Linked DNA regions of Homo sapiens: region 1 is linked to region 2. Evidence: fine-mapped expression QTL. A gene starts in region 2. The other region holds a variant in brackets. All regions are shown on one strand. Distances are between the middles of the regions. Region 1 overlaps NFXL1 (nuclear transcription factor, X-box binding like 1). Region 2 holds the start of NIPAL1 (NIPA like domain containing 1).

Region 1 (4,527 bases), 150 kb before region 2:
TCGTCCACGGTTCTTGGCTCATCACTCCCACAGCCCCTGTTATTTTTCCCCAAGGCATGCCATTAAAACTAAAAATATAACCTTCCTCCGCCTTTCTGTCTTGAGCAGGCCGTAAAGAAATTCTCTGACCTACCTTGTCTGATTGTAGGTCATAAGACCCCATTTCAGAAGGGGTCCTGTCCCATACTCTGGAAGAAGGAATGCTGTACACACAGGCCAAAAAGAACTGAAACAGGCCTTGTTGGGTTTCCCTACTCGGTCTATAATTACTAGATCACACCCTCTGTCCAGTCACACTTCTACATGAGTGTCCATACTTCAATCATGCCTATCCAATGAATTCTCCATAAAGGCCCAAGAAGATAGGGTACGAAAAGCTTATGAATAGCTGAACACAGAGGTTCCTGGAGGGTGGCATGCAAATGGTGGGGCAGGGGTAGGAATGGAATCACCATACCCCTTCTTTCATACCTCACTCTATGTATCTCTTCATCTGTATACTTTGCAATATCCTTTATAATAAACCAGTAAACATAAGTTAAGTTTTTCTCTGAGATTTATGAGGCACTCTAGCAAATTAATCAAACCCAAAGAGGGGGCTGTGTGAACCTAAACTTGAAGCCGGTCAGTCAGAGATTCCAGAGGCCTGAACTTCAGACCAGTGTCTGAAGGGAAGGCAGTCTTGTGGGACTAAGCCCTCAACCTACAGGATCTGACACTTTCTCCAGGTAGTCTCAGAAATGAATTAGAGGACACCCAGCTGGTGCCTGCTACAGAAGTGATTGTTTTCTTCTTGGTTGAAAGAAACTCCCACACATTTGGTCACAAAAGTCTTTTGTGTTGATTGTTGTGTTTTAAGAGCAGAGGAAAAACAGTTTGTGTTTTTTTCCACACAGGACTAAAAGGAAAAGATGACTTAAATAATTCACTGAATTGAAAGCAAACGAAATTATTAGAACTGAAGCGATAGAATTCTATATTAAAACATATACTTTAATATGTATTTAAGAAAAAAAATCTGTAGTGCTGAGGTAATGGAAGCCACCTTAATCCAAATATATCCACATGTCCCCCTCAAAAAACATATAGCTCATTAATAACAAAATCACTGAATCCCACGACCACAGCACAACTAGAAGACACAAATTTCTACAAACTTCAAATTACCTATAACTAGGAAAAAAAAAAAAACAACTCCTGAGAGAGCTATTTTTCAAGCTCCCAATGCAAGTATTTTCATAGAGCTAGTGGAGTTCTGAAAAAAACTAAATGAAAAACAGAAGAGGAGGCTGAGCTAAAATCACAACAGAAAAAGGTCCCCCTAAATATGAAAATACTGAAAATACCCTGGTAGACCACAGCACTAACTAAAGGGAATGGATTTTAACAAGTACACCAGGCTGGGTGCAGTGGCTCATGCCTCTAATCCCAGCACTTTCGGAGGCCGAGGAAGGTGAACTGCCGGAGGCCGAGGAAGGTGAACTGCCAGAGCCCAGGAGTTCGAGACCAGCCTTGGCAACATGGCAAAACCCCGTCTCTACAAAAAAACACCAAAATTAGCCTGGTGCGATGGTGTGCACCTGTAGTCCCAGCTACTAGGAAAGCTGAGGTGGGAAGATCACCTGAGCCTGGGAGGTCAAGGCTGCAGTGAGCCGTGAGTGCGCCACTGCATCCAGTCTGGGAGACAGAGAGACACCTTGTCTCAAAAAATAAAAATAAAAAAAAATTTAAAAAGTATACGAGATTCAAGTAGCCAATCTTGGAAAGGCAACACTCCGGGAAGAAGGTAAAAAGGGAAAGGCAGACTTTAGACTTCAGACTTGTTTCAAAATAAAATAAAATAAAATAAGTACACAAGATTCAAGTAGCCAATCTTGGAAAGG[C/G]AACACTCTGGGAAGAAGGTAAAAAGGGAAAGGCAGACTTTAGGCAGACTTCTTTAGACCCGGCAAAAGAAGGGAAATTTAGGATTTTGCAAGACCAAAGAAAACAAAAGTAAAATAAGGACACATAACTCCTCTCCTCTTCTCAGTACCACCCTCAAACGCCAACCATTTAAAAAATTGTATTTTCCCACACTGGCAAGAGAGTGGTCATCAACTAGAAATCTTATACTAAGCTCTGTCCAAAAACATAAAGATATGTAATTTACAACTATAAAAAACTACTATAGAAAATAAACAGAAAATGACATCCAAAGCCTTTTTGCTGATGAAAATCCCCTCCTGTATCTCCCACCCAAAAAAAGAAGTACAAAGAAGAAGAAAACTGGAACATAATATTCCAAACTGAATTAACTATATGAAACACTGCTTATACAGAAGTGTTAACCTAGCAGACCTGACCACTATCTTTTGAAAGGCCTCCTTGTAAGACTAGCCCTTGGCTGGTGCTTGGGAATCTGGATTTCAGGAAGGTTCCCACCATTCCCAGAACTGGTAAGAACAGCTGACTATGTCTAAACTGTATAAATCAAATGGTTTATGCTGAACAGTTGCTTTCCCTCTTGAGAGCCCTGAACTCTGGTATGTACCAGGTGAGGCTGCCTATGTAGCCTTCCCCCAGTAAAAACTCTAGGTGCTCTAATGAACTTCTCTGGTTGGAAACATTTTACAAGTGTTGTCACAACTCAGTGCTGGGAGAATTAAGTACAAACTATGTGGCTCCACTGGGAGCAGACTCTGGGCGCTTGTGACTGGTTTGCCCTACACTTCACCTCATGTGCCTTTTCCCTTTGCTGACTGTGCCTCCTACCCTTTTGCTGTAATAACTCATAGCAGTAGGTATAACTATATGCTGAGTCCTGTGAGTCCTGGCAAATTACCCAATATGAGCATGGTATAGGGCTCTTCAATACACTACCACCTTAAGTCAGAAAAGCAAAACCTAAGAACATAATGGAGAAGAAATGAACAAAGGTTGATTGAATTCAGGAAAAAAAAAATTAAGATAAAATTACATCAGAAATAAAAACTAAATTACAAGGTGCTCATGAAAGAACATATTTACAGAAGAACATACTTGAATCAAAATTTAATAAGGCTCCCTGAAACGAGGCAGCAAAACATCCTAGATGATAAAAATGAGATATAGAAAAAAGTATCAAAGAAGTAATTGAGTGAAATGGGAGACAGAAAAAGAAAACCCAACATATATACAATTGATATCACTAAAAAACAAAATAAATGAAACAGATCTGGTATTTAAAACTATAATCCAGGAAAATAAAAATATTGAACTTATATGTTGAAAGGGCTAATCAGGTACCTGAAAAAATTTATCAAAAATTATTAACCCTGAGTCGTACCTTAATAAAAACATTAGATTTTAAAGATGGAGGAGGAGGAGGAGGGAAGTGAAGGAGAAAGAAACAACTTTAGGGGTCCCAGGTAAAAAAGATCAATTAACTCATAAGGAGAAGAGACTGGCATCAAATTTCTCAAAAGTAAAATATAAACGAAAGCAGCATAGAGCCACATTTCCAAGAAACTCTAGGAAAGAACGCATCAATAAAAGACTTTTTATACAACTGTAAATGCTATAGCAAAACATTCTTAAAACATGCAAGGGAATGTTTAAGAATTAAGCATTCAGGGAATACTATACTCACAAGCTCTCTTGGAGAAACTACTAGAGGATGCACTTCATTCAACCAAGAGAAGATTGGGAAATTTCAGCAAAAAGACTGATGGTTGAAATTCAAAATTGAAAATCTAAGAAAAAAAGGGCTGGGCGCAGTGGCTCACGCCTGTAATCTCAGCACTTTGGGAGGCCGAGGCGGGTGGATCACGAGGTCAGGAGATAGAGACCATCCTGGCTAACACGGTGAAACCCTATCTCTACTAAAAATACAAAAACAAAATTAGCCAGGCGTGGCGGCGGGCACCTGTAGTCCCAGCTACGCGGGAGGCTTAGGCAGGAAAATGGCGTGAACTCGGGAAGCGGAGCTTGCAGTGAGCCGAGATCGCACCATTGCACTCCAGCCTGGGTGACAGAGCGAGACTCCGTCTCAAAAAAAAAAAAAATAGAAAAGAAAAAGAAAAAAAGGTCGGAATGGGGGTAGAATAATATATAAATGTCATATGTTCTGAAAAAGAATAAAACATGCAACTAAACAATGAGAAGAGAAGGAGAGAAAAAAAGGCAAACAAACTCACTGATTGTCATACAGTCTTAAATGAGAACCAGGTGATAAAATTAAAAGCTGACAAACCAGTTAGTAAAAGATGGAAGAAACAAGGGTCTAAAGACATTAAAAACGTACAAAAAAAAAAAGTAATCAACCACTAAACGAAAACAAACCTTAATAGGAGAAAATTGTAAGAGCAAAGAAAACGTATCACATAAAGAAAAAGTGACATAATACAAACAGTAATCATAAAGTAATAATTCAGAGCTAAACCAAAGATATTAGTGATATTAAAAATTGTTAAAGGACTTACTTAACTTGCCTACTAAAATGAAAAAGGGGATGCATAAGAATTCAAGCCAAAAGTATTAAATGTAACAAAGGATACCTTTCAATGCTAA
Region 2 (4,000 bases):
GGAAAATACATATTATAAATTTCTGCTAGGCAACATTTAAACTGGAAAAGCAGTGGTCTTAAATGAGTTTAAATATTTTTTTTCTGAATTTTTTCTCTTTATTTTCAGAATTGAAAAGCAAGAACTACAACAAAATGCCTCTTACCTAAAGTAGACCTTAATATGCAACTGAAATTCAATAAAGATACATTTTTTAAAGTCTGTTTTGTTTTTTAATGTCCAATTACCAAATGGGTTAAGAGCACATACTTGAAGCCCAGCTTTCTTGGTTAGCATCTTGGTTCCACACTTACTGGTTATGTGTGCATAGGCCAGTTACTCAATCTTTGTGTGCCTCCATTTCCTCAGCTGTAAAGTGGGGGTAGTAGTATCTACCTTACAGGATTTTCATGAAGATTTATAAAGCAAATATTTACAAAGAGATTAGAATAGTGCTTGCCACATAGTAAATGCTATCCAAGTGTTTGTTAAATAAAAAATAAGCACCATAGATCACGTTTACCATCATTACTAATTTTTGATAAAGACAAAATTTTAAGTTGGAAATCCAAAGAAAACGTTTAAATAGAAGTCTAAGTTTTGGGCCGGGCTAGGTGGCTCACGCCTGTAATCCCAGCCCTTTGGGAGGCCGAGGTAGGCGGATCACGAGGTCAGGAGATTGAGAGCATGCTGGTTAACACGGTGAAACCCCATCTCTACTAAAAAAAAAAATACAAAAAATTAGCCGGGCGTGGTGGGGGGCGCCTGTAGTCCCAGCTACTCGGGAGGCTGAGGCAGGAGAATGGCGTGAACCCAGGAGGCGGAGCTTGCAGTGAGCCGAGATCGCGCCACTGCACTCCAGCCTGGGCGACAGAGCGAGACTCCGTCTCAAAAAAAACCAAACCAAGCCAAACAAACAAACAAGCAAACAAAAAGAAGTCTAAGTTTTAAGGCTTGTTATGGAAAATTGGCATAAATCTCCCTCGCTTTCAACTTTCACCTATTCCACTCTCCGTGGTGTTCCTTCTCTGCAAAGTCATCCATATGTATTATAAAAGTGGGTGCCTTGGACTGGTATGTTGACTAATTTGTTCTTAGCTCTTCTCTCATCCGCCTAAGAACAAGAAAAACAAGATTGAGGCCTCTGCTATGAAACTCTTAGGTAATAAAATTAATAGCACTGTTCATGCCTACTTAGAACAAAGGCTACCTGAGTACATGAGAATATTTTCCTCAGTGTTAAAATGCCAGAGCACAAAGGCACCCCAGTTCTCCCTGGTGAGGGTTTGAGCCCGAATTGTTCACTACCCCACCCCTCACCTTTTTTTTTCTTGAGACAGGGTCTCACTCTGTTGCCTGGACTAGAGTGCAGTGGTTCGATCATGTCTCACTGTAGCCTCCACCTCCTGGGCTCAAGTCATCCGTCCTCCCACCTCAGCCTCCTGAGTAGCTGAGACTACAGGAGTACACCACCACATCTGGCTAATTTTTGTAGAGACAGGGTTTCACCATGATGCCCAGGCTAGTCTCGAACTTGTGGACTCAAGAGAGCCACTCGCCTCAACCTCCCAAAGTGCTGTGATTACAGGGGTGAGCCACCCGCCAGCCCTGCCCACTCCTTGTTTTGTAAATACCTGCTATCAGGTCTTCCAACCTTGGTTTGGTTACTTAACCTCACTCTTTGCCTCTAATCCCTCATCTGTAAACTGAGCGTTAATAGACTGCTGTGAGATTTAATTAATACATAATGTGCCTGCATATGTATGGTATAACAAGGATATCATAAACATTAGTTATTAATAATTCGTGGAAATAAGTCTTTCCAGTTTTGGCATTGCTTTTCCCTTAAAGGTTTATTTCAAATACCCCTATGACCCAGAAAATGGGGCAGGGTAGGGGGAGTTGCCTGCTGGAGACAGAACGGAGAGTGGATGGATATAGCGGGCGTGGACGGACAGCGACAGAAGCTGATAACAGCACAGAAGGGCAAAGTCTGCTCAGCAGCCCCCAAAATAAACTTGAGCCTGGCAATCGGCGCAGAACCCCAGCAGTCAGCAGCTTCGGTGCAAAGCAACTAACACCTGAAGGCTTCCAAAAGCAGCAGGGCTCTCTCTAGCGGGGGAGCCTTTTCGACCAGAGAGGAGCCAGAAGGGGGCCTCAGTGCAGCCTCCACTCCACTCAATTCCCGGAGTTACCTTGGCGGGCTCCACGCTCCGAGAGACGCTGTTGCTCTATGAGGCGTGTCTGTGTTTCTCTAGTTCGCGGCTCCAGCAGTCGCGCCAAGGGGCAGCTGCTACTCCTGCCAGATACACCAGTTATCACAGGCCGCTCCCAGGCCTGCGGGGGCCCTGAGAATTCGCAACAAGCCCCGGGCAGCAGGGCTCGGCTGGCGCTGAGGCCCCGCCTGGCCATGCCCATTGGCGGAGGCTGCCCCGGGGGCGGGGTCAGGGCGCCCCATTCCCAGACCCCGCAGCCCCGCCCGCCGCGGGTGCGTGTGGAGAGGCCCAGGTGAGGAGCAAGCGCCCGCGTTCCGGAAGCCCGCTCCCGGGGCCATGGGGGCACAGGTGAGGCTGCCGCCCGGAGAGCCCTGCCGAGAAGGTTTGTGTCTGCCCTGAGCCGAGGGACCTGGCAGCTGGGTGGCGAAGAGACCGGGTGGGCGGTCCCCGGACACTTGCGGAGACTGGAAAGGGGGGCTGTACCGACTCTAAACGTAGTCGTTCACTCATTCATTCATTCAGTCAGTCGGCCGTCCAGCCAGGCGTTCAACACTTATTTATGGGTGCCTAGGCGATTCGGGCTGTGCTGGAAAACCTGAGTGGAATAAGGCAGGTGGGACTCCCACTCGATTCGCGAGGCCGACCAGTGTAAATTACCGCGTGCTGCGTGTGGGACGGGGAAACTCAGGATGCTATGGGAAGAATCCCGAGTCCCTCTGAGAAGGACGTTTCCTCTGACTCAGGCTCCCTTCCAGAGTCTGCGGCCGACGTCACCCGGTGGGCAGAGGGCGTGTCTGCCTGGGGGGCCCGTGGGAGTTCTGCGCTGCGCCCTGCGCTGGCTCCCGGGGATCGAGCACCGCGAGAGGTTGGGCGCCCGGGGCCGCGGGGGTGGGCGTTGGGCAAGTCTGGGCCGCCCACGTCTCTCCTCTTCCTTGGAAATGAAAAGGTCTCCAAACCCATGAGCCTGTCTGACTCGCTGTGCAGTCACTCTGGCTGCTTAAGGCGAGAGCCGTACTGGAGAGGAAACCTGGAACCGGGAGCACTCGTTTGCAGGCTCTTCTTACTGCTTCTCACCTGAGCCCCGTGAAATCTCTGGGCGAGGCTCCTTGCCCTTCGCCAAGTGTTCGCAACACTGGCGGGTTTTCTGCAGTCTCCATACAGAAGGCCCCGATAAAAGTAGGGAAGGGGGTAGGGGGAGCGACTGGAAGGATGTAGATACATTGAAATGATGGTTTTCGCCGTACCAAGGGGAAAGCAGCTTTTTAATTTACCTGATAATGCAGTAAAGGGGAAGGGAGGCAGTGAAAGGCATGGTAAGAACTACTATATATATACACATATATATATAGTTCCCTTACACATATATATATATATATATGTATATACATATACACCTTTGCAAAGGTGCTCGCAACTTCCCTAGTTTCCTCTCCTCTTGACTCTTCCAGCTTATTCCTTTTTAACAAGTGAGCTCGTCCAAACCATGCTAGCAAGGAAGAGAAGGGACACCAAAAAAAGGAGAAAAATGCCTGAACAATTCACAAGCTATTAAAAAAAATTTTTTAAGGCCGCTGGATCTAGAATTATTTTCTAGTCTTTTTTTCTGAAAAAGAGCAATAACGCCTGAACAACTCACAAACTATTAAAAAACAAAAATTTTAAGGCAGCTGAATCTAGAATTATTTCCTAGAGAGTCAGGTTGTGTGCCCTTTTTCTAAATAATTTCTAACCCAGCAAATCTGACAGTTACTAACACACCCACACTTGTTTACCCAAGGATCTGTAAGTAAGGAAGGTATATGAAT

Evidence for each region. PIP is the estimated chance that this variant, and not a neighbour inherited with it, causes the effect.
Region 1: its variant is the best candidate, but not a certain one, in a credible set for the expression of NIPAL1 in whole blood (TOPMed, PIP 0.59).

Annotation. Positions count from the first base shown.
Region 1 is chr4:47,864,311-47,868,837 of GRCh38, forward strand. The region is part of intron 18 of NFXL1 (nuclear transcription factor, X-box binding like 1); the gene reads right to left. The region is part of intron 1 of LOC101927179 (a long non-coding RNA gene); the gene reads left to right. Among named protein-coding and RNA genes, the nearest start is that of CORIN, 29 kb to the left of the region's middle. The variant C/G (reference allele first, on the strand shown) is at 1,884.
Region 2 is chr4:48,014,309-48,018,308 of GRCh38, forward strand. NIPAL1 (NIPA like domain containing 1) reads left to right here and starts at 2,464. Exons shown (of 6, transcript NM_207330.3): 1 at 2,464-2,577. The coding sequence starts at 2,532. It overlaps CNGA1 (cyclic nucleotide gated channel subunit alpha 1), which reads right to left and starts at 2,373. Exons shown (of 11, transcript NM_001379270.1): 1 at 2,175-2,373. RefSeq lists an enhancer at 2,054-2,555 and silencers at 2,320-2,649, 2,940-3,099.